Homo sapiens: one gene and its partners. The protein of the gene in region 1 interacts with the protein of each later gene in a pairwise test. Each region holds a gene or a part of one and is shown in the gene's direction. Other genes may lie near its edges.

Region 1 (9,425 bases):
TCCACTTTTATGTTTATTTGTCCTTCAGATCCACTTTTATGTTTATTTGTCCCTATTGATTTCTTAAATTTATTGATAGCTATATTTTCTCCTTAGAAAACGAAAGCATTAGTGCATTTTGATTTCTCTTTGATCTCCTTAAGGGCCACATTTTGGAAAATTAAATATAATATAAATGGTGTTCTCTGGACTTGTGTAATCATGTTATTTTAAAGATATTTTGTTTTGTGTTGTTATGGATGAATTTTCTCCTTTTCCCAGCTTTAAGAAAATTCCTATAATAAACTTTACCCAGTATTTGATTACCTTTTGCTCTCATAGTTCTTGCAACATCCTCCTGAGTCACTCTTTTCATTTGAATGCTTTCTCTAAGAGCAATTTTAATGGGAGTCTTGTAGGTCTGAAGACATCTTCATTAGCTACAATATTTGAATGACAATTTGGCTAGATTTAAAATTATAGGTTCAGTGTTCATTTTCTTAAATACTTTAAAAATATTTCTTCATTATCCGCTTGCATCTAGTTTTGCTGTGGAAAAGTATACTGTCATTTTGATTCTTGTTCCTTAGCTATAAATATATTCTTTTTCTTAGTAAGCTTTTAGAATGTCCTGTTTGTATTAGTTGTTTTAAAGTTTCATTATAACGTATCCAAGTGTTTGTTTTACCTTATCTCTATTGTTGTCCATGAGGCCTTTCAAAGATTTTTCATCTTTTTTTTTTAATTTTAGGAATTTGTCATTTCTGTAAGACAAGGACAGGGCAAGAATAACCACTATTAGCATTATTACTTGTCATAGTACTGGCCAACACCATAGGAAAGGAAAAAAACAAGAGATGGAAGAATCGGAAGGGAAAAAATAAAACTGCCGTTACTTTCAGAAGAGATTGTCTTCTACCTAGAAAGACTATGATAACCAACAAACTATTAGAATAAATAAAACAGTTCAGCAAGGTTTCTAGAAATAAGATAAACTCTCAAATATTAGAATTTTTCTATAGCATCACTAACCAACTAGAAAATTATATAAAAAACAAGATGCCATTCACAATATCAACAGAAACTATAACATAATTGAGAATTAGCTTATTTAAGAATATACTGTACTTCTGCGGAGAAAATTTAAAAACTGTAATAATAAAAAACATGGAATATGATCTGAAGAGATGGAGAGCTGTCCCATGCTCAGCTGGACCAAATTAATTTTATAATGATATTACTCTTGCTTGAAGTAATCTACAAATTCAATGAAAACCAATAAAAATTTCAGTGTTTTTTTTGGGGGGGGTGCTGGGGAGTCTCTCTCTGTCACCCAGGCTGGAGTGCAGTGGTGCGATCTCGGCTCACTGCAACCTCCATCTCCTGAGTTCAAGCTATTCTCCCACCTCAGCCTTCTATGTAGCTGGGATTACAGGTGCCCACCATCATGCCCAGCTGATTTTTGTATTTTTAGTGGAGACAGGGTTTCGCCATGTTGGCCAGGCTGGTCTCAAACTCCTGACCTCAGGTGATCCATCTGCCTCGGCCTCCCAAAGTGCTAGAATTACAGGCATGAGCCACCATGCTGGCTGGAATTTTTTGAGGAACTTGATAGACTTATCTGAAAAATTTAAGCTGTACTATAATAAATAACAATAAAAACTAAGGTACAAGAACAACGAGACCAGTAAAATAAAATAGGTCCATGTACCTAAAGTATGTATTTCTATTCAAAAAAAGCACACTATGAATAAAGTTAGCAGATGACAAGAGTGAAGAAATTTGTGTTGAGTAAAACTGAAAATATCTAGAATTGTACATCTAGAACACAGATGTGCAAAGAATTTCTGCTGATCAACAAGAAAAAGGGCAATCCTGGTACAGAAATTGGCAAAGGAATGAACAGACATTTTAAACTGGCAAGAACAAATACTACACTTGATCTTAGCCAAAAGGCCAAGAGGTGATTGAAGAGGTATTTTGAAGAGAAACTCCATAGGGTTAACATGCATATGAAGACATGCTTCCATTTATTAGTATTATAATGTAAAATAAACCACTACACTATCACTACACTATTACACTAAAACACACACACACACACACACACACACACTACACTGTTGCTATCACTACATGTACCACACTGGCAACATTTAGACCTTGGATAATGTCAGGTTTGGTGGTAAAGTGGAAATATGAGAAGCTGGTGGAAAAATGAACTGCTGGTGGAAGTCTTGGACAGATTAGTATTCAGTCAGATTAAATATACACCTATTCTTTGGCCCAGTAATTCCACCTCTGGGCATATAACCTCAATGAAATTTTCACATGCCTCTGAAAAAAGATGCATATAAGAATGTTCATCAATGCTTTGTTTGTGGAAGAGGAAGTTGGAGACAATCTGCTTAAGTGAAATGCAGCGCTCACACACCATAGAATACTTTGCAGGTGTTAAAAGTGGTGCACAGAATGTCTACATCAATGTGGATAGATCTTACAACACTGTGCTGAATTAAAAAATAAGAAACAGCGTGAAATGTGTAATATAACATCACCTACATAAATTAAAAATCTATACATGCCAAACAATACAGATCTTATAAGAACAGGCACAAATGTCTACAAATAAAAGCTTCAGCATCAACCACTGAAAAGAGTTGCCCTGATTGGAATGGTGGGTGGGTGATGGGGGTATGAGGGGACAGGAAAAAGAATAGACATGGAAAATGAGGGGGAAAGTAGATGAATGAATAAATAAATTACTGAGCAAAATAAGATAGGGGCTTTTCATAAATCAAAAATGATGAGAATGAAGATGATTAAAGGCTAAATGAAAAGAAAAGATTAAGACTTGGCAGAGGTAATGACATGTAATAAGCACTCTGTAAATATTTATTAAATGATGGAAGAAATGAAGTCGATGGTGAATCTTTTTGCAAAGCTAAAATTTATTTCACAATATGAATCAGTGCGCTTTAATAAATTATTTTAGAAGTTTTGATGTTTGTATATCAGATTCTTTAAAAATGTGAGCACACCTGTATTTGGAGTCATCTGGACCATGTTCACAGATTTTTTCTTCTTTTCTTCCACTTCTTGAGACATTGCATAAACATAGTCGCCTCTTTTGAACTATGCCATGCAGTTTGACTTTTGATTCTAAGTCACAGAAAATGTTTTCCTGGAAAATATTTGCTGTTTCGATCAAGTCTTGATTCCAAAGCATCTGCCTGTATGTGGTCACTGATATGCAGGGTATTTGCTGGAAGAAATGAGCTGGAATCTGCCTCATGAGCTGTGAGGCCATAAGAGGTGATGGGTTTATCGCTGGCCATGATGGTGGGCTTGCCCACTGACATTTTGTTTTTCTGCCACTGTACAAGATCTGATTTGTCAGAGTAGCTCTGGGTCTCACCTTTTCCTTCCCTCTTTCCAGAGGACAGAAATTTATTCCGGGGGATATAGCTTCTGTTGATCTGCTTCAGGTTTTAATAATAATGATCCTATATTACTACTAACAAACATGGCTGACACTTGGCATTTACTGCTTTCAACTTAATAAATATCTTTTATTTTAATGATTTAGAGCTCTGGCTCTAGTCAGATGAACTTGGGTCTGGCACCAGCCTATAACCTGATAGCTTGGTGACATTGGACAGATGAAATTCCCTAAGCATTTGTTTGTTTCTCTGAACAATACAGGTAGACGTTTCCTTGCAGCGTTGTTGTGGTGACTAGATTAGGTAATGTATTTAAGGCTTAACATGGAGCCTCTTGCACAGTAAGTGGTTATATTATTACTTTGTGGAAATCATCATGCTAGGCCTGTGGGGAGAAACTGAGATGAATAAGAAAAAGTTCTGAATTTCACGGACTTGGAGAGAATAAGACATGACCAAAAGAGACAAAAGACAGACCCGTGGGAGAGAGGACCAGCGAGGCCACATATCCTCCTACGAACCTGTGAGACACTCACAGAACTGGTTCTTCATTTTATAGATGAGGAAACTGAGGCTAGAAGAGTTATGTGACTTGTTGAAGGGGACACAGTGAGTGAGTGTCAGAGCCTTCATGGGAACCCACGTCTCCTGTGACTGAGGCAGGCCTGAGGGATGTGCCTCTGTTTCTCATGGAAACTCCTTGGCGCAGCCCAAGGCCTTGAGATGCTGCCCCCTGCCAGGCCAGGGTGTGGGCTGCCAGCCACCACAGCATGGGGGCCTCCACTGTCCTGAACTTCAGAGGCTTTGCGGGGAGGGCTTATAGGCAGCCAGGAGACAGCCTTCTCTGGCTTTTAAGTGAATCATTTATAAAATGTTGACAGCATTTCTCCTCAAGACCTGCCCTCAAATCAGCAACCGATTAGAGACAGTAATTCATAACTTTATCAGATGAATTTTTATTGGGGGTCACTATGCTCCAGGTCTTGTGTGGGGCACTGGAGAGGCAAAGATGAAACCTCCTTGAGAAACTGTCAGAGTCATGTGACAATTCACCATCACATAATGAACAAAGTGCTCTAAGATCTGAGAAGACGAACAAGTATTCTCTGGGCTGGGGGTTTGTCCTTCCGGCAAGAGAGGACGGCAAGGTCAAAGGCAGGGAATTGCATGGGTGTTTGGTGGTGCTTAGAGGGCACTGGGACCAGTGGTAGGAGGGCAGTTGGTGGTGAGGCTGGAAAGGAAGGCAACGGCTCGATTGTGGGAGGCCTTCTAGGCCTCCAGCTCTGTGGCTGAAGGGAGAAGGTGAATGCTTTGTAGGCTAGGGGATAGCATGATCAGGTCTAGGTGGTGCAAGATGGCTCTGAGGCAGTATGGATGGCAGAGCAGCAAGGCCCCACACCTGCTCTAGGGGGTGTGCCAAGGGGTCTTGACCCCAAACTGACTGAGTCCCTGGAGCCTGAGCATGTGGACCTCAGATATGCAGTGGCAGAAGGCTTCCAAACTGTGAAGGAACCGGTAGCCAACACCATCTACACTTCCAGATGGTGAGCCCATGACTTACTTAAAGAAGCTTCCTGTTATCAGTGGGTGGGCACTCGCAAAGAGGCTCTGTTCATCTTGTGCCTACAAGCCCAGATCCAGTCAAAGAGCACGGGCATGTTCTCCTTCCTTCCTTGAGGGTTGGCCTCTTTTTCCGTGGGCATAGCCGACATCAGAGCCAGCGCCCCCATATTTCAGCATGATTAAGCCTTGCCATTTTGGGGGTGGCTGGGGGCGAGGGGAGGGGCTACTGTGTTTCAAAATGGAATAAACAGAAAAGCAATATTGAAAGAATGAGGAGGTTGTTTACTGAGGCTTGAAGAGATGACAGGTGTTTCCTCCCAGTTGAGAACCAGTGACCCCTGGGAATCGCATTTCCCGCTGAGCAGGCGCCCATGGCGGGCTGAGTCCTGCCCATGCCCTGGTGGCCTGGAAGCCTGCATGGGCGCCGTGCAAAGATCAACGTTTTCCAGAGGAGCTTTTGGGCTCATCACTGGCCTGGGGAGGGCTTGACACGGGGTTCCCACAGCTTGCCCCACACCACCTTCACACCCACACACAGCAGGTCCCCGCGGGGCCGGTGCAGGCTGTGGCTGCCCGCGCTGCGCTGTTGCTCTGTCCCAGCTGGCTAGCTCCGAGTGTGGAGCGCTCTGGGCCGGGGCCGCTGGGGCGCGCACAGTGGGGTGACAGGCGGCCTGGCTGCAGAAACGTTGCACCGGTGCCTGAGGTGGGAGGATGTGATGACGCGGCCCACGCAGCGGGAACCCAGGCCTTTAAAAAGCCCAGGAAACAGCCTCAGCTCAAGCGGTGGCTCCACTGGAGGAAAACACACCCCGGTCTCACATTAAAGAAGCCAAACTGTCGGCTTCAAAGAGAAAAGGCAACATCCTGTCACAGGCCATGCTCTGGCAAAAACGTAAGTGGTTTGGCTGTGGCTGTCAGACCCAAGCGAGTGCCAGCGGGGCAGGGCGATCACAGCTTGGTCTGGAATTGGGGAGCTGGTGGTGGAGGTGATGGGGCCACGGGGGGAGGGGGTCTGGGTTCCAAGCCCCGGAGCAGGGAGGGGGGAGGTGGGCGGGATGGAGCCTGGTGGAGAAACCAGCCTGTCAGAGGTGATGCTGATTTTCCAGGCTGGAGGGGAACGAACTAGTGTTCCAAGGTGGGACGGCTCAGGGTACCTCCGCTTCTGTGCATGAATCACTGTGGTGAAGAAAGGGCAGTTTATGATTCACACAACAAAAGCCAGATGTGGGATGGGTTTGGGGTTGGGAGGGAAAAGCCATGCAGTTCTTTACAGGAGGGGCTTTATTTCCATAAGCAGTGGCTCTTCAGCCTTCTGTTGAATTCCCTGGGCCTGTTTCTAGCTGAGTGACTTAGCTTTCTGCCAGGTGTGACTTGTCCCTGTGGATACCCTGGGAGGAGTGGAGATCTGGCTCGGTGAAGCGTGTCCTCACTTGCTCCACTGTCTTGCCTTTCGTCATTCTTTTTCCCCTTCTGTGACAAGGCTTGTCCATCCCACTGCAAAGGATGCAGTGGGTTTATCTTTGGCCTTGATTTTTATCCCCGGAGTTGGATGAAACAATTGTGAACTTTATTTTCCTTTATGTGGACCAAACAGCGACTTACCTTACTAATAACTGAAATAATACAGATTATTTACAACATTCTTTTCACGAGGTAAACAGCGTCAACTCATCAGCTTCTGAGAGTTGAACCTTATTGGGGCTAGTTCTATACTTCCTCAAGCAAGAAGAATGACCAAAAATTGCTCTGTCTTTCTCTTAAAGATTCTTGGTTCCTTAAAATTCGTTTTAATTAATTTTAGTATGCTGTGCCTCAAGCAAGCTTAATATAAGAGAATCTAGATTTACAGAAGAAGATATATTAGGGAATGTTTTTATTTTATGGAAAGATACTTGATTGGATCCACTAAAGTTCGGAAAATATAACTTCATTGATTAAAATGTGACACTGTCATCACCAATTTATTGTTTGCTTTATGTCTTATGTAAATTTCTCTGGAATTAAGCTGATTAACCAGTAACACAGAAGAGTGATTTCAAAATTTCTCAGGTTGTGAAGACCCACCATTGTTTGATATCAAAAGGTCAATTTTTTAAAAAAATAAAGAGAAATGAGCTTTAATTTGGGTTTGAGAGTTATGGACTCCTTCCAAGATAACTAGGAATATTCAAGAATTGTTGGCACGCCACTCTTCCCAACAGGCGATGGAGCAGCGGCAGCCTATCCTTTCTGGGACAATGGCAGCTGACCCTGTTGTGAGTGCTGTGTGGATGAGAGCAGGTGGGCATTCATCTTTTTACTGGGGGCCCCTAAGCATCTGTGTGCCCTTTCACTCAGGGCTGAATCATTTGATTTTTGTGTGAGCCCCTGGAAGGAGTTTTGCCTCAGCTCCTACCTTCTATGAGCAAGCCACTTTCCTTTTTCTCAATCCTTAGGTTTTTTGTATGTTAAGTGGGGGTAAAAATCATATCCACACTGAGGATCTATCCTTAGTAAGTGAGGTGCCACCGAAGTCATGTTCATTGCTCTGTCTGCATCAGCCTCTGAGATATGAGTTGCTTCCCTGCATTCACCATCTGCCATATTCTCCCCTCTTGGTTCTGTAGTACATTTTTTCATTTCTAATTCCTTCTAAGAGATGAACAGACTTTTTTTGTTTGTTTGTTTGTTTTTTGAGACAGAGTGTTGCTCTGTTGCCCAGGCTGGAGTGCAGTGGCGCGATCTCGGCTCACTGCAACCTCTGCCTCCTGGGTTCAAGTGATTCTCTCGCCTCACCCTCCCTAGTAGCTGGGACTACAGGTGCCCGCCACCACACCCAGCTGTTTTTTTTTTTTTTGTATTTTTAGTAGAGATGGTGTTTTACTATGTTGTTCAGCCTGGTCTCGAACTCCTGGACTCAAGTGATCCACCCGCTTTGACCTCCCAAACAGGTGTGAGTCACTGCACCTGTCCCCCAAATTTTTTAAAGGGGATGCTGGAGGGCATGCTTCCTGCTCACACCCTGGAGACCAGTCAGATAGATCAAAACTCCATTGTAAGGGAGACCACATTGTAAGCTCATCAATGGAATAACTGGGGTGAATGTTTCCACATGTTCAGATGAACACAAATCAAAATTATCTTGAATTGTCCTTTAAGCCTTAAAGGAAAAGTAGGAGAGACCCTGGGCTCTGGACCCACCCCCTTAGCCTGAACCCAAGTATGTGGTATAGAGGGCACCTGGGTGACTAAACCGTGTGGGAAAATCAGTAAAAACAGGGCAGCATGTCAGCCCACTTAGAGTCACCCGATGGAAGGGCAGGGTTTGAAATCAGACACCAAGAGTGCTGAAAGGGCACTTTCTTTTTTCAGAAAACACCCTCGAGGCATGAGCTGAAATGACTGTACTATGGGGTTCTGGAAAGGGTTAAGAAAACATTCACTTTGTGAATGTTACCTCCTCCCTACCTAGCCCATGACCCTAGTTTGTGGACTAAATGTGAACCCTGGCTTTTGGTTAAGATTAGAGCATAAAGTGACAAAGCCCAGAACTGCTGGCACAGAGAAGTAGAAATCTTCAAGCCCCAACCAATGGATTTGAGATTTGCTTGATGGGCCAATTGGATGAAGAAGTCACTCCATCTGTAGATTCTCTCCCTGGGTTCTGGACTTGGACCTGCTGGTCAGGTGCACATGTGAAGAATTACCATCCCTCCCCAGCTAGTAACAGTGTAGTGGAAATAGCAGGAACCTTGGAGGGAGACAGGTCTGAAAGTTGCCTGTGCAACTTAGTTCTTTCTTTGTGAGAAGGAAATTTCCATTCATTTCCTTATCTGGGAAGTGGGGATTCTAATGTCTGCCTCCCAAGGTTTTTGTGAGAATTAAAGTAGAGAATGTAGGTAAAATGATAGCAAGTTTCCTGATAAGTAGTGGTAGGGATGAGTTAGTACCTTCCGTCCTGGAAACCACCTGTGGGCCCATCTTGAATGATCAGTGTTATGTTAAATTCATATATTCTTTTCCACACTTTGATTAGAATAGTTAAAAAGCCACAGTCTAAATATTCTTGGGTGATAGGATATTGCAAAATTTTCCAAGGGTCTAAAATAGTGGTCTGCAAACTATGGCCTCTGTGCCAAATCAGGCCTGCCACTCCATTTGTAAATAAAGTTTTATTGGAACACAGCTCTGTCTATCATTTGAATATTGTCTAGGGCTGCTTTTGCAGAGTTGAGTAGTTGTGACAGAGACTGTGCAGCATACAAAGCCTAAAATATTTTCTCTCTGGCTTATAATAGAAAAACATTGCCAACCTCTGGTCTGAGATGATTTGCTTGGTTCTTCAGGCATTCATTTCCTTAAGATACTCAGTATCAGGCCGGGTGCGGTGGCGGGCGCCTGTAATCCCAGCACTTTGGGAGGCCAAGGCGGGCAGATCACGAGGTCAGGAGATCGAGACCA
Region 2 (5,428 bases), on another chromosome or scaffold:
CAAATCTGTACTTTATGGATTGGCAAAAATGAGCTCAAATAAATAACCCAATAGCAACGTCCTGGTTTATGCTGGTCGGTGGAAGATTCCAAATTTGTTAGGATTCTGGAAGCAGAAAACAGAATCAAGCAAATCAAGCGGCATCCAGAGGCTTTGCTGTTAAAAAAAAAAAATTAAGTGCTCTGGGTAGAAAAAATAAAGCCCCCGGTTAGAGCAGAGCAAACAAAAAGAAGAAAACAACGATAAAAAGAATAAAGACCAAAATGCTCTCCCAAATCAGAGGGAATGAAGACACTCTCTGGGTGGCATTTGTGCAAGGCATGAGGCTATGCTGGTGGATAAAAGGCCGGGAAGAAGTTGAAAATGGTTTTAGTTTAACTGTCCAGAGCCAGAGCTGGGTCCTGGGCGGCGTGGTTTTGAGCAAGGTCAGTCTTTCATTAGCTCTCTTGCACATCAAGGGAACGGGCCTCTCACGTACTCTTCTCGCCTGAGCAAAGTTTAGATGGCCTAGGGTAGAAATGGCAAGTAATTAAAGACAGAGTCTATGGGTTTTCTGGGATCCTTCGAAAACGCCCTCCCACCCCGCCCGCTATTCCGCAGCTCCACCCTAGTGCTTTGTAGCCGCGGCGCTGGGCTCTCCTTGCAGCTGCCTCTCCTTCCAGGGCGGCTGCTTGTCGAGCCAAGTGGGAGTGAGGCGTGCTTTTTATAGCAGTCGGGTGCAAAGAGGAAGGGGGATAAAAAGGAAATCAAGAATGAAAGGAAAAAGAGAAAAAGCGGATTACACGGCTGGGCCCGGCGGAGATGTGTAATGTGAAACATCACTGGTGTCAGCTCGGATATCTCAGGCCAGGCCTCTCTCCAATACACAAAAGCCGCCGTCTGGGGCGACAGGGAGGCCCGATGTGGATTGGGATCGGGGTTGCGGCTGGGCCACCGGACACGGGTGGAAGCCGGCCGGCCTGGGTGGCCGCCTGCAAAGCCAAACGACCCGGCTGGGCCTGGCGCGCGGACAGGCCTGTGGTGGGCTTAGGGTAAAGAAGAGGCAGAGCGAAAGAAGGGGGAATCTCCAAAACTACCCTTTCCGGGTTCCCGGAGTTTAATATGCCAAGCTCCTGGAGTTAACGAGCTGACGAAGAGGTGGTCTTTTGCTCTTTATTTGGTTGTTTTGCTAGGCGAGAAAGAGTGTTGGCGGCCTAGTCCCTGTTAAGGGAGCACGTACCAGGGGGTGGGGGACGACAGTGGAGGTCAGGGAAGGAAGGGAGGAATTGCGTGGGAGAAAGAGCGATCCTCTAGTGCCCTTCCAGCCCCTTCTCCTCATCCGTGGGTCTGTGGCTTTGGAATGGAAGCAAGTTTGCAAGGTGCCCCGGGAAGGGTTGGAAAAGCCTGCTGCCCCGCGTTTGTTTTACATTAAGTGTTTTTGGACCTGGAGAAACGCCTGGCTGAGTGATCAAACCGTCCGCAGGTCTCCATGCGTTCGGCTGAGGTTTGTGGCGTAGCTCCGAGTCCCAGCTCGCAGGCCAGAGCAGACCAGGTCTCCTGCGCTTGGTGGAGACCCGGGCCAGTAACTGAAAGCTGGCCCTGGTATCTTGGTGTGCAGGGCGGTGCAGTGAAGCGAGGCCAGGGTGTGTGAGTGCGCTAGCGTGTGTGTCGGGGGAAGGCGGGGGTTGGCCTCCGATGGAAGTTTTAGTAATCTGCACTGTGGCATCTGTTTGCTCCCTTGCCCCAACCGCCCCCAGGTTTGGTTCAAGAATCGTCGGGCCAAATGGAGAAAGAGGGAGCGCAACCAGCAGGCCGAGCTATGCAAGAATGGCTTCGGGCCGCAGTTCAATGGGCTCATGCAGCCCTACGACGACATGTACCCAGGCTATTCCTACAACAACTGGGCCGCCAAGGGCCTTACATCCGCCTCCCTATCCACCAAGAGCTTCCCCTTCTTCAACTCTATGAACGTCAACCCCCTGTCATCACAGAGCATGTTTTCCCCACCCAACTCTATCTCGTCCATGAGCATGTCGTCCAGCATGGTGCCCTCAGCAGTGACAGGCGTCCCGGGCTCCAGTCTCAACAGCCTGAATAACTTGAACAACCTGAGTAGCCCGTCGCTGAATTCCGCGGTGCCGACGCCTGCCTGTCCTTACGCGCCGCCGACTCCTCCGTATGTTTATAGGGACACGTGTAACTCGAGCCTGGCCAGCCTGAGACTGAAAGCAAAGCAGCACTCCAGCTTCGGCTACGCCAGCGTGCAGAACCCGGCCTCCAACCTGAGTGCTTGCCAGTATGCAGTGGACCGGCCCGTGTGAGCCGCACCCACAGCGCCGGGATCCTAGGACCTTGCCGGATGGGGCAACTCCGCCCTTGAAAGACTGGGAATTATGCTAGAAGGTCGTGGGCACTAAAGAAAGGGAGAGAAAGAGAAGCTATATAGAGAAAAGGAAACCACTGAATCAAAGAGAGAGCTCCTTTGATTTCAAAGGGATGTCCTCAGTGTCTGACATCTTTCACTACAAGTATTTCTAACAGTTGCAAGGACACATACACAAACAAATGTTTGACTGGATATGACATTTTAACATTACTATAAGCTTGTTATTTTTTAAGTTTAGCATTGTTAACATTTAAATGACTGAAAGGATGTATATATATCGAAATGTCAAATTAATTTTATAAAAGCAGTTGTTAGTAATATCACAACAGTGTTTTTAAAGGTTAGGCTTTAAAATAAAGCATGTTATACAGAAGCGATTAGGATTTTTCGCTTGCGAGCAAGGGAGTGTATATACTAAATGCCACACTGTATGTTTCTAACATATTATTATTATTATAAAAAATGTGTGAATATCAGTTTTAGAATAGTTTCTCTGGTGGATGCAATGATGTTTCTGAAACTGCTATGTACAACCTACCCTGTGTATAACATTTCGTACAATATTATTGTTTTACTTTTCAGCAAATATGAAACAAATGTGTTTTATTTCATGGGAGTAAAATATACTGCATACAAATTGGTCTGGATTCTTTCTCCCCTCCTCTGTCACTAACTTGGCCAGGACATCTCAGTCACTGCTTCCTAAACAAACCAGTTCCCTCTGCCTGCCTAGTTAAACATACAAGGCAGCAGTCCTTATTTAAATTTGGTAGAAATAAATGATAGCCATTCATCAGAAACTAAAAAGAAAAAAAAAGGCATTCCCGGGGGGGAAAAGGGCTACAAAATCTAATTTTGTCTCTCCAATTTTTCTTTGGCTTAAACCTAGAGGATTCCATTATGGCTAGCAAATAATATGAAAAAGAAAAAAGAAGAAAGAAATTTAGCAAGTCCATCAGCTTAAAATGACTCTCAAGTTTACTCCTTTACGGGGAAACCTACACCTCTAGCAAATTGTTCTGGAGAAATATTTGTGCATGTATACATGTATAGTTTATATGCATTTCTCTCAGGAGGAATACATCTATAATAAATTTACAGGGAAACATCTCCAGTTCAAAATATTTAGGCTTCCACGTTTATCTTCAGGCTTAAGTAGAGAGATCCTTCATGTTATATTGCATTACTATTTCCAAATCCTTTGGAGACATTAAAAGAAACAAAGATGATTTCTAATAACTACAGCCCTTCAGTTTCTCAAAGAACTCAGGGGTTGAGAGGTTAGAGTGGAGTTTCCTGAGTCTTGTCGAGCAATATGTAGTTGAGGCAAAGGTCATGCTCCCGGTGTTTTGTTTTAAATAATATTGACCCATTAATTCTAAACCTGCTTGTTCCTGAAATTATACAGGATTATAGTTTGCAAACTGCAGGACAATGAAGCAAATCAAGATGAATTACAGCCCTGGCCCTCCCTGCCATCCTCTGACATCTAAACAGGGAATGAGTTCGGTGTGAGTGTTTAAATGAACTTTAAGCACCCGATCCTTCTTTATCCGCGATTTTCAGCTTTAAAAAAATGTGAAATTTGATTTCATAACAAATAGAAACAAATACCACTTAGTCCCAGAGAATTCATCCTCATGGCGCTAGGAGGGTCGTTGTGGAGGTGGGGGGAGGGATGTGCTGAGATCTTTTGTTATGCTTGTCAACCCCCCGCACAACCAAAGTGGGCGAGAACAAACACCACGCTGGGGAACTTAGAGCAAAAAGTAACCGCCGATTTTCTGGAGCCGACAATATCATTGTTTTTTCGCCTTAGTTGCTTTCATCTGAATGAAACTTTACCTAGAAGCTTTTGGAGCTCGAACACTGAGTCTTTGTTCTGCAAGAAACTGCTGCTGCCACTTAAAGAGATCGCAGATAATGTCCCCGATTTAAGATCAGTGCTCAACGCACACTTTCTTTCTTTTTAAAGCTCTGCCTCCGACTTGCGGAGGGATCACGCAGCAGTGGGGGGCAGATAAAAGCCCTTTGGACGAGGGTCACCTCCCACCATGTTGTTCACTTGAGAGCAGTGGAGAGGAAAACGGTCCCCACGGGCGGACTTTGGCTTCTGGAGCCGCAGGGCCCAGCGGTCCCGGCCTCTCCGCCTCTCAGCCTGGTAGGGGGCGGGGAGGGCCAAAGGGCGGAGGGGAAGGAAGGAGCTAGAAGAGGGGATTTGGGGATGGGGGCTGGAAGCGCTAACGAGACCTGCCCGGAGGATTTAGGTCTCCTGCAGGTTGGTGAGTGATTTGGGAGCTCTGGGTAAAAGAGGTGTACCTCGGCCTAGTTTGGTTGCTGAACTAGAACAACGCGAGGACATCAATCAATCTGCAGGAAACAAAAAATGGAAGTCGAGGTTTAGGAAGAGTTGTCACTTCCCCGACTTGAGTGGTGCAGGCTGGGGGCGGAGACTTGGGACCTAAGAGAGGCCATTTCTCTCACCTCAGCTCCCTTCCCTTGGACTTCCAAAAGGAATAATTTTACTCTCTCCTCCGTTCTCCCCACAACTCTCATCCCCGCTAGCCCGCAGGCCGCCTGCCCCTTTCCGCACCTCCTTTTCCCATCCAGCGAGAGAAACCTAGCTCCCAGAGCCGGTGCAGTCAGTCCCCTCGCCCCTCCCGCCCCTGCACGGGTCCCCCTCTAGCCGTCGCTGCAACCACCACCTCGGTTCCACTCAACCGATTTTTGCTGCATGTCAACACTTATTACCGGTGAGTGTGAGGGTATTTTTTCTCCTTCTCTAGGTCTCTTAATGATTTCTGAGCTAGTTGTGTATTAAAGTGCTTAAAGGAACCTTTAACATAATCTATAGCATGAGCACCAACCTTCCCCGCTTGGGTTCAAAAATGGCGAGCTCGAGGTTGGGCCCGGAGGCGCCCAGGCCTCACTGGCCTCAGCGCACTGCCGCCGTGCTCCTTGAGCGCTCAGAGGTTCGCCAGGCCTGGGGCAGGAACCCCGCGCAGACGATCCGCCGTCTGGGGGCTTTCTCCCCGCCACCCCCTTCCATCCCTCACCTGTTAC
Region 3 (9,273 bases), on another chromosome or scaffold:
TAGCAATCTCTTACAATGTGTTAATAGTCCATACTAAAATTAAGAATTCTGAGTTGTTACTTAACTCCCATAAAAGGGACTTTGGAACTGTGAATTTTATTCCAAATAAATGTAGTCTTAATATGTTTTTCAGTTAAAAGGATCAACAAGATATTGAGCATCATTAAAAAAAAACCAAAAGGGATAATGTTACTCTTTTTCATATAAAGCCAGTGCCTGTTACAGGAAGACTATGTGATGTTGCCAGAAATGTAACTGGTAAGGAGAAGAACGCTAAAAATCATCAGAGATCGGGAGATATTGCTGTTTGACAGCCTAAAAAAATGAAAAAGCATATAATTAAAATCTTTAAAATCATATGCCAATATAATGAAAAGCTGAGTAGCCTTTATTATGTAAATATTGAAACATACATAGAATAATCAACTCTTCATGTAGTCATGTGGCTTCAACACTTACCAATATTTTGGCATTCTTTTTTCATCATTTTTTCCCCACTGCACCCCTTTTAATTTGCTGGAGTAGTTTAAATCAAATTATGAACAGCTTATTATACTCAGGTATTTCAGTATATATGTCCAACTGATAATCTTCTTTTTAATATAACCACCATGCTGTTACTTAACAGTGATTCTTTTTATTTTTAATTGTGACAGGGTGTCACTCTGTTGCCCAGGTTGGAGTGTACTGGCTTGATTACAGCTCACCTGCAACCTCAACAGTGATTCTTAATGTCAACGTGTGCTAGTCTGTGTTTGAATTTCCCTAATTGTTTCAAGATTCGTTTGTTAAATTGACTTGTTCAAATGAGGGGCCTAACAAGGTTCACACTTTGCATTGTTAATGTGTCTTGAGTCGTTTTTTCTAATAGCCATTAGAAAAAACTTACATGTTTCTAAAATCCCTTACATGTTTCTAAAATCAAAACTATGTGTATTATTTATTACTGTGTAACTATTATCCCAAAACATAGATACTTAGACAACAAAAGTTAATTATCTCATACAGTTTTAGACAGATATCCCGGAATGGTTTAGCTGGGTGATTTTGGCTCAGCATCTCTCATGAGGTTGCAGTTAAAAATGGCTGCTGGGGTTATAGTCATCTGAAGCTTAACCAGAGCTGGAGGATTCAGTTCTTTACCATTTGGACTTCTCCATGGGGCTGCTTGGGTGACCTCATGACATGACAGCTTCACCAGAATGAGTAATCAGAAGAGAGTGAGGTAGAAGATAACCTTTTATAGCCTGTCCTCAGAAATGTCACTGTCATTTCTGCAATATTTTCTTGGTATACAGGTCAGCCCTATTCAGTATGTGAGGGACTAACAGGGAGCAGATACTCATGTGCTTGTTGCTTATTTGGTCATTTTTGTATTGTGGAGTTAAATCTTTCTAATTTCTAAGAATATAAACGATACCAACCCATTGTCATAAATGCTATACATGTGCAGAAGCCGTTGAGGGTCATGATAGAGGTTGGCTACTCTGTGTAATAAATAATTCCCAGAAGTCTTACCATTACTCTTTGCTTCATCCTGTTCTCTTTTCCCCTTAATTTTTTTTATTACTTTTTACTTTATTCTGTCATTGATTCTTTTTGAAAATATACATAAAACATAGCTTATATATAGTCATGCACTGTATAACATTTCAGTCAACAGTGGACTGCATATATGATGGTGGTCTCATAAGATTATAATGGAGGTGAAAAATTTCTATTGCCTAGTGATGTGTAGCCATCATAATGTAGCACAAGGCATTACTTACGTGTTTGTGGTGATTCTGGTGTAAACAGACTTACTGCCAGTCATATAAAAGTGTAGCTCACATAATTATGGGTAGTACCTAATACTTGATAATGATGATAGGTGACTCTCTTACTCATTTGTGAATTTACTATACTATATTTTTAAATCATTAGAGTGTACTCCTACTTATTTAAAAAAAAACAAAGCTGTAGAACCAGGCTCAGATAGGTCCTTCAGAAGGTATTCCGGAAGAAGGCATTGTTATCATAGGAGATGAGAGCTCCATGGATGTTCTTGACCCTGAAGACCTTCCAGTGGGACAGGATATGGAGGTGGAAAATAGTGATATCAATGATCCTGATGCTGTATAGGCCTAGGCTAATGTGTATGTTTGTGTCATAATTTTTTTCTAAATGTTTAAAAAAGTAAAAATTTAAAATTAAAAGAATAGAAAAATGCTTATAGAATAAGGATATAAAGAATAAATATTTTTGTATAGTAGCACAATGTACTTTAAGCTAAAGTATTAAAAAAGTTAAAAAATCAAGTTTATAAAGTAAAAACATTACAGTAAGCTAAGGTTAATTTATTGAAGAAATGGAATTTTAAAAAATAAATGTAGTATAGCCTAAGTGTATAGCGTTTGTAAACCTTTAGTAGTGCACAGTAATGTCCTTGGCCTTCACATTCACTCAACACAAGTACCTCACTTGGAGCAGCTTTTAATCCTACAAGCTCCAGTCATGGTAAGTGCCCTAGGCAGGCATACCATTTTTTATCTTTTTTGCCATATTTTCACTGTACCTTTTTTATGTTTTGATATGTTTAGATACACAAATAATTACCATGTGTTAGAATTGCCTAAGTATTCAGTACAGGAACATGCTCTACAGGTTTGTAGACTGCTATGTACCATATAGCCTAGCTATGTAGTAGGCTATATACATCTAGGTTTGTGTAAGTATACTATATGATTATACAGTGACACAATTTTCAGAACCTACTCTTGTCATTAAGCAATGCATGACCATATTTTTTATTACTCAAAACATTGCTTACTATAAACAATGTCTGCATTTTGCTCTCTTCATATATCCTATAGATCTCTCAAGTATGTGAAGAAGTTCATCCTTTTTCTTTTTTTAAACAATTAAACAGACTTCTTAATTAATTTTCAGAATACTGTGACAGTCCCATTTGGACTTGAATGAGGTGGGTTTAAAGTAAGTACCGTAAATCCTCACTTAACATTGTTGATAGGTTCTTGGAAATTGTAACTTTAAGTGAGATGACGTATGAGGAAATCAGTTCTACCATAGGCTAATTGATATGAGTAAGTTGAGTTCCTACAGCATATCTCTGATCACAAAAATACCCCCAGACTTCTAGATAAAGACTAAAAACAAATGTGAGTTATAGATACATTTAAGAAAGATTAATAAAAACAAATAAGATAATGATTTATGCAGTTATTCCAATTCAGGGTTGTGGGTGGCTGAAATCTATCCCATCAGCTCAGTAGCAAAGTGGGGACCAACCCTGACAGGTTGCTATTCCATTGCAGGGTGCATTGCAACCACACACACACCCATAGTCGTTCAGACTGAGATCATTTAGACATGCTAAGTAACCTAACATACACATCTTTGGGATGTGGGAGGAAATTGAAGTGCCCAGAGAAAACCCACACAGACTTGGGGAGAATGTGCAGACTCTACACAGAACAGTAACCCCAACTGGGAATAATTTTTTTTTCCTTCTCAGTGTTTTAACGAAACAATGTCGAACAAAAGATGTTATTTGAGGATCTGCTGTGTAAAAGGAATCTTGTGTAGAGATATAATAAACCTCTGAAATTTTTAACTCTAGGGATGTTTTTCAAAATCAATTTATAGCAGTTTATGAAAACATGCAAAAAAAAAAAGCTTTATGAAGAGTTGTACCCTATAAATTTTTATTGAGGGGAATAACTGTGGTTTTGACCAGGAGTTCCTTACTCATTGATGACCACAGTCTACTACTACGTGGAACCTTAATCTCAGCCTTTTTTGATGATGCCCAAGTTAATATTTATATTGTTTTGTTCATGGGATAATATATGCAAAATGACTTTATAAACTAAAGCTTTGGAGTTATGCCTGAGTTCCAGTGATGGTTCTTAGCTCTTCATGGTTCTGTTCTTAGCTATTGACTGCAGGTAAGTTGCTTAATTTTTCTGTATCTGAGATAAGGAATACTAATATGGTTGAATTTTTTTAAATGTGTTTATTGCCTGTTTGCTTATTTTTTTATTGTGGAGTTAAGCCTTCTAATTTTCAAGAATTAAGAGTTCATTGTTATGTGCTATACGTATTTATTCCCCTTGATTATATTTCTGTACCTACTTACCTTTTTATTTTAGATTCTGGTCACTTCTATTCCGAAAGTTAGTTATGAAGTACAATCCAGGATTAAGGTGGCATCTAAATTTGGTTAATTTCTGTGCTACCTTTTATGCTATTAGTCTAAATCATTAAGAAAGCATTTAAGAAACTTTTGTAAGCGTTTCTTTTTTTTTCTTGTCATATTTGGGAATAGGATAAATAGCTTAAAATAGTTGAGCTGATTTTTATTTGTATTCTTTTTTTATTATAAAGAAACATTTGCTAGGAAATAAGCTGGATATAAACATAGTTGTATCTCCTTTAGTGCTACCCAGCACTAAAAACTTAGACACGTATAGGGCTGAGCAGCTGGTATAATAGAGTGGGCTCCGTCTCATTTTCTAAGCCTGTGAGTCCTAGCTGCCTACTGCAGCTCGATTTGAGTGGGAGTTGATATAATGTCTTTTTTTTTTTCTCACTTCAGCAGTAAGTATCTGGTTTGCTCATAGTCTTTTGATTAATAGGTAGTTTGAATATTTTTCAAAGAATCAGCCAACATGTGATTATTTTAAAGATTTAAATACCAGATAGATATTAAAATGCAAGGTTATTGCTACTAGATATTACATCTAGCTAAATCAACCATTGTGAAATAATTGAGAAGTAGAGATAATAAAGACATAAACCAATAAATCTTTGCTTGAAAATCACAGGTATGGGAACAGATTGTGAGGACAGAAAAATAAAAAGTAAAAAGAAAAATCATAGGTAATAAGTGTCTAAAGGGTTTCTTCATAGGAACAGTGGTTGTTGACCCCAAATAGGACAAATAGGACTCCCATGTTCAAGAACACATCACCGTTGTTAAAAAGGTCTGCCATTATTAAATAGTGCAATGAAGAACCATTTAGACTTTATTAGAGTCCACGTTATTGGCAAAAGATGTTGGATATTCATAGAAAATCAAACTTGACAAATTCCAAAAGTGTCTTTCAGCTCTGGAACAAAAGATGTCATATAGTTCCTTGCTACCAAAGAGTTTGTTCATATGGTAATAGAGGCCCATACCTTTAGAGGGCAAATACAGTGCTTTAGGAAGGACTTAGATGATATAAATGGTATTTGTCCCTTTTCTCATTTTTATTTACTGATTTTCAACTCACTTGGCTTTTAATGAACATTAGCGTTACTTATCTGTTGGCAGCTGGGTTGGAAAACATTTGTTTTTCTAGACTTTATGAAATGGTAGCCACTGGTGTTGCACTTAATGTTTATTGCCAGTTAGTTCTCTGCAGTTAATCCACAGCAGAGGAATCACACTTCTAAAATGGTTCATTCTCTTCTTCATAGACATTTAAAGTTGAACAAATACTTTCTTGTATATTGTTACTCTGTTTGGATGGAGAGGGAATGTATATGTATCTTAAAAATATTTCTCTTTGCCACATTAAACATGCCTTTTTTCCTTGTGTGTGTGTGTGTGTGTTTTCAGGTCAGATGTACCAACAGTACCAGCAACAGGCCGGCTATGGTGCACAGCAGCCGCAGGCTCCACCTCAGCAGCCTCAACAGTATGGTATTCAGTATTCAGGTGAGCAGGTGTTGAAAGGGAGTTGGCTCATGGTTTTTTGTTTCTATACTCATTAAACTTTAAGTTCTTAATTCCTTGATTTGTAGTACATTGATATAATAGGTATTAAGTTTTTATTAGGGGAAACAACATTTGTTTTATTTATTTTTAAATATTTTACATTAATATTGTAAATCAACATTTCAGTTTTCTGGTGGGGAGATAAAACTTACAGTAGATGATTCTGCAGTAACTTGTAGTATAAAAAGTTTTTAATACAAAGCTGTCTTACTAACATTATCAGTTTATCTCTTAGGCGACTTAGTGCAAGTTTTCCCCCTTCCCTCCACCTCTCCATTTATATGTAACACGTAATTCCAGTGTACTCTTAGTACCTGTAGAAATATGAACAGTTTACTATACATGGAAAGGTGATGTTATTTAAATAAGAGCTCAATTAAGCTACTTAGATTTTAAAATCTCTTGCAAGTATGTAGGAATACCAGAAATAGGCCATAAAAATAAAATCGTATAAAATGTAATTCAGGCAACTAAGAACATTGTTTAGTTGTTTTAAATAAGCATCCTGAGTATTTTGTTTCTATTTTACCATCTGTCCACTGAAGATTATATGTATTTAAGTATGATAAATATTATTAATGTAACTTTGGCTATAATTCCAGTATTTTTTACAGTTATGTCAGAGAGTTTGTGTCCAACTCTTGTTTTACAGCCAAAGATTGAAGTATCAGAATTTCAACTGTAATTAGAAATAATTTATGCAGGTTGAATCTAGTCTAAATTCTATTTTATAGAGTTTTGTGGTATCAGCTAGAGCAGGAGTCAGTAAAGTATAGCCCACAGGCCAAATCTGGACTATTGCCTGTTTTTTTGAATAAAGTTTTATTGGAACACACTTCTACTTTTATATTCTCTACTGCTACTTGGGCACTAGAATGGCAGAGTTGAGTAGTTGCAACAGAAGACCATGTGGCCCACAAAGCCTAAACTATTTACTATCTGGCTCTTTACAGAAAAGTTTGCTGACTCCTGACCTAGACCATAACATTCTGTCATTAATTAAAATTTGAAATATTTTGACACAATTTTATTTAGATTGTATTTGCTGTAGAGTGACTTAACTTGTAGCTACTTGTTTTTAATTGTATAAAATACATAGAACTTAAGTTTGGATTATATCAGGAGGAAGGTTATTTTTAGGATGCAGTTCTTTTAAAAAAATCAGTGTTACAAACTATGTTATTTATAGAAAGAATAGCAGAGCTGAAGAGATTTAGTCATCATTTAATCTCGGGATTTCGGTCCTCACTATGCTTTAGAATCACCTGGGGGAGGCTATGTGTGGGGCCCCATTCCCAGAGATTTTGAATTTCATTTGATTGGGTGTGGGACTCAGGCGTTTGCATTTTATAAATGAGGCAACTAGTTTTGAAAGAGATTGTGACTTGTCAAAGCACATACAGCCATTCAGTGGAGGGAGCTGGATCAGTTCAGTATTTCCCTGTATCATTCTGCATTCTACAACCTAGACTGGAGTTGGCAGACTTACTCCATAAAAGGCTAGATGTCCTATGTATTAAAAAAAAAACTCACATAATTTCCATATTTCCATTTTTTTGCTATTTCTGATGTCCTTCACCTAAAGTTATTTATTATTTTGGAGGGACGGAAGGGAGACTATATATATACACACACACACATGATAGAAGCATTGCCACATTATGTTCAAGAGACTGGTGGGCTGCTAATGAAATCTTCAGCCTGTAGGGTTATTCCCTCCCCTAAGCAATAATTAAGGATCAGATTACTTCCAGGCCCAGTTAAAAAAAAACAATTCAGATTTCAGGTGCCAGGATGAAAAGGCACTTTTCTTTTTTCTCGCAGTGTTAAAATGAATAGGCATTTTCAGTATAAAGCTGAATCCATCTATTTCTTCAAAACCTTATAGTGAAAATTTAAGTTTTATGTAGAGGATAGGAGAACTTGTATGACATTCAGAATTTTTTATGAGTTGGTTTCAGGTCAGTATTTAGATGCTACCATGAGTTAATGCGTTAAAGATACTTGATTTACTTATTAAGAACTAAGCTTGCTCTTAATAAATTTAGTCAGGGTCTTCACTCTGAGTAAAATTTAGTCTTTTCAAATTATTATCTTTGTATTTCTGATCCTACTAGTCTATTAACTTGAATTTGATTGAGAGATATGGAAATAGTCAACTAAATACTCTGCTTGGAGACTAAGAGGTGGTGGTGGTAACATTGGACCATCTTTGACACTGTTGGTTTGCCAGTTTCCCTCTGACCTTTTCCAGTTTTGTTCATGGACTATGTCATAAAGGTTTCTTTCATGAGTAAATTTTGAACCCAGGTTCAAGGTGAGTTCAGAATATACTCAAATTCATTCAATCCTTTTTTTTTTTAATGCAGGGTTGTACATATTTTAATAATTTTCTTATGTATCTGGTATTTAATGCTGACAGGATTCCAGTCAATGGAGAGGTTTCATTGCAAGTAGCTGCAGGTGTGTTTCATGGTAGAGATAAAAGTTTTCAGTGAAGCAGACTTTCGTTGTAAAAAAAATTACATCCTAGTAAATAATGAATATAGATGTTGCTTTTTATGGGGCAATATGGTATGCTTTTTATGTGTTATGCTGTACTGCTAAGTAAAAATTTTGAGTTGTAAAGGCAAAAAACATCAGATACCAAATCTAAAAGGAATGATTTTAAAGATTGTGAAAATGGTACTTTTTATTTATTTGCAAAATTTAAAGCACCTGATTAGTACAATAAGATGTATTTATAGTATTATTTCATATAAAAATGTTCATTCTCCGCAATGTGTTTTTATTTGATACTGTTAAGTAGGTCTCCCCTGAAAACCTGGTTAATGACTATTTAGCTTTCCCATTTTTGGTCTTCCTAGAAAGTATAATTCTTTCATTTATCATTTGAGCATCTGTTCTAGGAATTATGCTATGTCAGGAATTTGCTCTCAGGGATTATGTCTTAGAGAGTTTAAAAAATTGTAGAGAATGCCTCTTTGATAACTACTTGGTCTTGAAATATTATGTGATGGAATCTACCACTCTGCTTGTTACATACATATTTATTAAATTTCTCACCATTTTTGGTCCACCTAACAGTAAGACTAATTCTTTGGAAAAGTAGTTTTACTAAAAGATAAGATACATGTTATTTATTTTGCCTTTTCAGCAAGCTATAGTCAGCAGACTGGACCTCAACAACCTCAGCAGTTCCAGGGATATGGCCAGCAACCAACTTCCCAGGCACCAGCTCCTGCCTTTTCTGGTCAGCCTCAACAACTGCCTGCTCAGCCGCCACAGCAGTACCAGGCGAGCAATTATCCTGCACAAACTTACACTGCCCAAACTTCTCAGCCTACTAATTATACTGTGGCTCCTGCCTCTCAACCTGGAATGGCTCCAAGCCAACCTGGGGCCTATCAACCAAGACCAGGTTTTACTTCACTTCCTGGAAGTACCATGACCCCTCCTCCAAGTGGGCCTAATCCTTATGCGCGTAACCGTCCTCCCTTTGGTCAGGG
Region 4 (5,596 bases), on another chromosome or scaffold:
TTCATGTAATATCTGGTTTGGGTATCAGGGTTTTTGCCAGCCTTATAGGATGAGTTTCGAAGTGTTCTCTCCTCTTCAGTTTTCCAGAAGAGTTTGTGTAGAATTGGCATTACTTCTTCCCCTAAATGTCTGGGCGATTGTCTTTTTAAAATTTTTTATTGAGCTGTAAGATGTATGTAGTTTACTAATCCCAAGCGCATGGCTCATTATTCCTTAATGCCCAGACTGTGCCATGTGTGGCCAGTTGGGGGCGCTCCAGGCACCTTTAGATGCCGCCCCATCATTCTGTGAGCACTTTCTTGCTTTCTGGTTCAGGTATGTGTTCAGGCTCATCTTTTCTTGTTTTCTCCGTGTCTCAGTCCTGGAATCGGCCATTTTTCCACAGAGCTATAGTTCCTTATAGCAGGATGGGGAGTTTTAGTAACTGCCTGGGCCCAATGCTGTTTGTGCTTCAGAAGGTTTGGGCCAGGCCCTGGTTCCACCAGCAGCAGGCATGCCTGCATTGACTTTCTGCTTCTCCTGCTGATTTGGCAGGGGCGACTGGCTGCTCCTGCCTCCTTTGTGTTCCCTGGTCATGTCTAAGGCCAGGCCCCTTCTGCCCAGGCAGCCAGCGTGGCTCTCTTCTTGCCTTTTGGTTGTCTATCTAGTGGAATCTGGTAGTGGACCTGGCACTTGTAGCAATGTTTGATCAGTAGAGTGAAGGAGATGACATTTCCCTGCTTCCCTGTGTTATGGAGCTGTCTTGAGGGGGGCTTTTGGTAAATACCATCGTCGAGGTGTGTACAGAATGTGAAGAGACAGGAGATCGGGGAAGGCTGTAGGCACAGCGGGAGCCAGGCTACCTGCAGGGGAGCCTCAGGGGCCCTGGAGTTCCCTGGGGACTGGCCACCAGAGAAGAGCTGCAACATCAGGGCTCTTCCCAGGAACAGAGTGTTGGGTTTCACCTTTTCTTTTGGCCAGGGACCCCTCCCTCCTGGGGAGCTGTAGCCATTTGGCACTTACTGGTCACTGGCGCCAGCTGTGGGGTGCTGCATGTTCTGTTTCATGGTGGTTTATGTCCCATGATCGCTTCCTCTGTACATTCCCTTCAGACCAGACAGTTTGCACACATCTGTGTTTGTGCACAGTTTAGCAAGGACCGTGGAGCTTTACTTGATGGCTGAGGGTGAGCCCCTCAGAGCCACACAGGCTTATGGCACCCCAAGCTCATCCCAAACTTGGGCCTCCCAGGTCTGCCCACCCTTCTCCCTCTGGCGCTGTGCGGGGGCTGGGAGCTGCAAATGAGGGAGGGGCTGTCTACCCTGAAGGGCAGCACTGAGGGTGGAGGGCCCGACCACACCCCTGGTAGGCAGAGGCCCCACGCTCAGGGTCAGCGACCCCGCTCCTCCTGCTCCTTTCCCATGCCTTTGCCTGAGGTGGTCTCTGACACTTGAGTAGATGTCTCATGGCCTGTGGCCATGGGGGCCCTGAAGCCCTCAGACTGCAGCCTCCCTCCCGCCTGCCTCCTCCAGCTGCCCTGGGTCTGGGGCTGCAGCTTTGGCCCCACCTGGCCAGTCTTCCCCACCCCACTCTTTCAGTGCCCCGCACCTTCTGGAGTCCCCTGGAGACTTGCCACCAGATAAGGGCCCGGCCCTGGGTGACAGTGGGGTGGGAGGATGGAGGAGGCTGGCATCCTCCCCACTGCAGACACCCCTTTGGCCTGGCTGCTCTGCTGGGCTGGCAAGGCAGGTGCCCATGGGTGAGGGCTGCTGCCGAGTCCCACCGCCTGCTGACGGGCTCTCATCCCTCCCAGTGCTCAGGCAGGCGCTGCGGCAGAAGCACCAGGAAGCCCAGCAGGCCTGCCGGCCCCACAACCTGCCTGTGGTTCAGGCGGCTCAGCAGCGAGAACTAGAGGTACTGGGGGCGCAGGCAGGGTGGCCGGCCCAGCTCTCCTGTGGGCACCACCTGGCTCTGCTGACTGGGCTGAGCTGAAGGGGTGTGGGGGCTCAGGCATGGGTGGCTGTCCTGGGCCTGAGTGGGACACTGGAGGCCTAGTGAGTCCCACCAGGTGGCTCCTCTTTGCGGATACCAAGTGTGCTGGGGCTGGGTGGAGGTTGAGAACCCACCAGTGCTCCCCTGGATAGCAGCTCCTCGTGGGTTTGGGCCTCCACAGAGCAGGTGGCCTCAGGGGGGTACAAAGGCAATGGTAGGGTGTTGGGGCCAGGAAGGGGCCCATCCTTCTCCCAGGGAGCACAGGGACAACCAGAGACTGGCATGTAACCAACAAGCCGTGGGGCAGGGTGTGCCTGTGGAGATGTGTGTGTGGTCCTAAGGCAGTCCCAAGCCAGGGCATTCGTGGAAGCCCCTTGGGGCCCCCTTCAGGGGTTCACATGGCCGAGGAGAGGCCTGGGTGTGGTGAGGATGCACCGGTGGTGTCAGAGCTGCTGCCACTGGGGACGGCAGCAGGAGCATGTGTTTGAGCTGCCCTCACCTCCCCGCCCCCTGATGGCAGAGCTGCCCTCACCTCTCCCCCTCCGCGCCCTGGCCCCATGGCAGGCCGTGGAACACCGGATCCGTGAGGAGCAGCGGGCGATGGACCAGAAGATCATCCTGGAGCTGGACCGGAAGGTGGCTGACCAGCAGAGCACACTGGAGAAGGCGGGGGTGGCTGGCTTCTACGTGACCACCAACCCACAGGTCAGTGCCTGGGCCTGCTCTGCCCTAGCCCGAGTGCCCCGGGGCCCCATTCCATCTGGGGTTTTACTGCTGGTCCCTGGGGAGCCAGGCTCAGGGTATGGGGGTGAAGTGGAAGGATTGAGGCTCTGGAAAGGATTTCTGTGCCATTCCCAGCACGGAGGCCAGGCCCATTCCCTACAGGAGGGTGAGCCAGCCAGCCATGGGCACTGCCCACCCTCTCCAGGCCTGCTGTGCCACACAGGGCCCTCTTCTGCTCCCCTCCCGCATGCCATTCCGAGTGGCCCTGCTGGGGGCAGAGGCTCAGATTCCGAGTGGCCCTGCTGGGGGCAGAGGCTCAGATTCCGAGTGGCCCTGTTGGGGGCAGAAGCTCAGATTCCACCCTGTCCTGGCAGGCCATGACCAGGCTTCACAGGATGGTCGCCCCCGTGGGCTCACTGCCTGGCACCCTTGGGCCGGGATGAAAGGGGCCTGGGGGTCACTCTGGCCTTCATGGGGCCCCTCTGTATCCCAGGAGCTGATGCTGCAGATGAACCTGCTGGAACTCATCCGAAAGCTGCAGCAGAGGGGCTGCCGGGCAGGGAATGCAGCCCTGGGACTGGGAGGTCCCTGGCAGTCGCCTGCTGCCCAGTGTGACCAGAAAGGCAGCCCTGTCCCACCATAGCCACAGGCAGCAGAAGTCTGGGCAGAGTTCATCTTCTTGACCTTTGGCCACTGCCTTCCCAGCTGCCCGCAGGGGGTTCCCCCTGCTGAGGAGAGACCAGGTGGACCCCAGCTGCCTGTCACCCTTCATCTGGGACTTGCTGTCAAACCCTAGGATAGTCTCATAAAGGGGAGGCTGGGCCAGCCTGCTGCTGTCTGCTTCAGGACCAGGCAGAGAGTGAGGCTGGGGGTTCTCACACCTTACTCCACCGGGCACATCCCAACCTGCACTGGGGCCCACCCGAGCGCTTGTTCTGGTCTCAGCCGCTCCCTTGGCAGCTGCAGCCCCCATGCAGAAGAGGCTCCCAGGCCCAAGCTCTGTGTGACCCAGAGAAATAAAGATGCCTCAGTGTGGCCCAAATGTGGCTTGTGTGATAGCTGCAGGTTCTGCCATAACCGGGGCCCTGGTAGGGCCCCCACCTCTGTTGCAGCAGAGGCCTCTACCTGGGGGCCCCTTCCTGGGCTGTGTGCCCAGCCCACCACCCCTCCCCCTGCCTGGAGACTGGGACCCTCCAGCCTTTCCTGCCCCAGCCCTGGTCCCAGGATGCTGTCACTGCCATCTGTACAGGGGCCCCCATCCAAGCCCCAGGGCATGAGGACCACATCCAGCCTGCTTTGTGGGGCTGGGGGCTGGAGAGCATGGGAGAAGGCCCGGAGTGCAAGTATGCGCCTGCCGCAGCCTGGTCAGTGTCCTGTGGGAACCACTAGGAGGAGCCTGATGCAGGTCACTGGGATAGAGGACTCAGGGTGGCAGGAATGGCCTGAGGAGGAGCCCTGCGGGGAGGCATGCCAGGGCCACCTGGGGAGCTTGGCTTCTGCATCTGCATGAGTCCCCTCCGTGCTGGCCTGGGCCCATGGGCCCTGCTGGGTCCTTGTGGAGTCAGGGTTGGGGGTGTCCAGCACCCTGGGTGGCCAGGTCTGCGCAGGGCCTGGCCTCCAGGAACAGATGATGCTGGAAGCCAGAGTTTGGGATGAGACTTCTCTGACCCTGTCTGAGCCACTCCCTCTTTGTTGCCCAGAGCTGACCCTGTGTGAGGGCAAAGGGCTCTCAGCTGCAGGAACAGTGGTTTATTGACCAGGCAGGCCTCCCCAGCCCGGCCACTGCTCCCCGAGGGGCTCGGGCTATGTGGGCTGGCCTTGGGAGAAGGTGGACAATCCTCTAGGTCCAAGGACATGGGGGTCACAGAGGTGGGGGCCTTGGGCCCACACATCCGAGGAAAGTTCCTAACAGTTACCAGCGGCTATCCCAGGCAGGTATCAGGGTCAGCCCACACCTGAGTGCCCCCACCATTGGCAGGGCTGGGAGGCACCTGACTCCACCTCCAGCAGCTCTGCAAGTGTGGGGTGAAAAAAGGTGAATCTGTGTGAGGATGGGGTTGGCTGCAGCTGTGGTGATGGCCTGGGCGGGGGCGGGGGGGTGCTAGGTGGGGCAATGGAAGAGGTTGCCAGTTCGGAGCCACCTCAAGAGCTCCAGCCACAGCAGCTGCCGCTCCCGACGGGCACCCTTCACGAGGCTGCTGTTCTCCAGGGCGTGGCAGGACACGTATGACAGCACCTACAGCCCTATACTTGTACACAGGGTAGCCAGCCTGGCCTGCATGGGGGCAGATAATGCCATGAGGCCCAGGCCCAGCACCACACTCCATCGCACCAGGGAGGGCCCCATTCACCCAGCGGGAAGCTGATCTGGTCACACATGCCTAGCAGCTGTCCAAAGTACAGTAGGATGCAAGCGCAGCTCCTCCATCCTGTGCAGGTAAAGCCAGGAGCTGAGGGCTAATTCCAGGACACTGTCCCCGGTGCAGGGGTACAGGGCCCCTGTCCCAGCTCTGACCCTGTCCTGCCACCCCAGGTCCCCCATCTACACTCTCCAGACTTTATCCCCTTTGAAGTGGGGTTGGGATATAGGCTCTGTCCGGCCCTCTCCCAGTGAGGCCTCTTCCCAGCAGGACTCTGCTGGGCTGCCCTACTCTTCTCCCTGGGGAGGCCTCAGCCCTTAGCCAACAAGGCCCCCCTCCTGCCTTCCCTACCCTCCTCTCTCCCACCTCTCCTCTACCTCCCTTCTTGGAGGTGCAGCCCTTCTGGGGCTTTGACCCACCCAGCAGCCTGCCCCACAGGGCAGAGAAGCTCCTCAGCTCTCCTGCCATCCCTTCCTCAAGCCCCTCCAGGGTTCTGTGGTATGACTGGTCTCCGGCCCCTGCCCTCGCCCTCTGTGGGCTGC

What was found.
Region 2: the proteins of POU2AF1 (region 1) and PITX2 interact in binary tests that used the Homo sapiens proteins (3 or more experiments, as listed by UniProt).
Region 3: the proteins of POU2AF1 (region 1) and TFG interact in binary tests that used the Homo sapiens proteins (3 or more experiments, as listed by UniProt).
Region 4: the proteins of POU2AF1 (region 1) and DGCR6L interact in binary tests that used the Homo sapiens proteins (3 or more experiments, as listed by UniProt).

What each region holds. Positions count from the first base shown.
Region 1 is NC_000011.10:111,375,614-111,385,038, reverse strand, and holds the start of POU2AF1 (POU domain class 2-associating factor 1), read left to right. Parts: upstream 1-5,763; 5' UTR 5,764-5,861; coding exon 5,862-5,877; intron 5,878-7,186; exon of another isoform or gene 7,187-7,189; coding exon of another isoform or gene 7,190-7,265; intron 7,266-9,425. UniProt on the Homo sapiens protein: Transcriptional coactivator that specifically associates with either POU2F1/OCT1 or POU2F2/OCT2. It boosts the POU2F1/OCT1 mediated promoter activity and to a lesser extent, that of POU2F2/OCT2. It recognizes the POU domains of POU2F1/OCT1 and POU2F2/OCT2.
Region 2 is NC_000004.12:110,614,997-110,620,424, reverse strand, and holds the end of PITX2 (pituitary homeobox 2), read left to right. Parts: intron 1-1,736; coding exon 1,737-2,300; 3' UTR 2,301-3,002; downstream 3,003-5,428. UniProt on the Homo sapiens protein: May play a role in myoblast differentiation. When unphosphorylated, associates with an ELAVL1-containing complex, which stabilizes cyclin mRNA and ensuring cell proliferation.
Region 3 is NC_000003.12:100,739,228-100,748,500, forward strand, and holds part of TFG (protein TFG), read left to right. Parts: intron 1-5,605; coding exon 5,606-5,704; intron 5,705-8,921; coding exon 8,922-9,273. UniProt on the Homo sapiens protein: Plays a role in the normal dynamic function of the endoplasmic reticulum (ER) and its associated microtubules. Required for secretory cargo traffic from the endoplasmic reticulum to the Golgi apparatus.
Region 4 is NC_000022.11:20,312,416-20,318,011, reverse strand, and holds the end of DGCR6L (protein DGCR6L), read left to right. Parts: intron 1-1,792; coding exon 1,793-1,893; intron 1,894-2,535; coding exon 2,536-2,676; intron 2,677-3,187; coding exon 3,188-3,337; 3' UTR 3,338-3,774; downstream 3,775-5,596. UniProt on the Homo sapiens protein: May play a role in neural crest cell migration into the third and fourth pharyngeal pouches.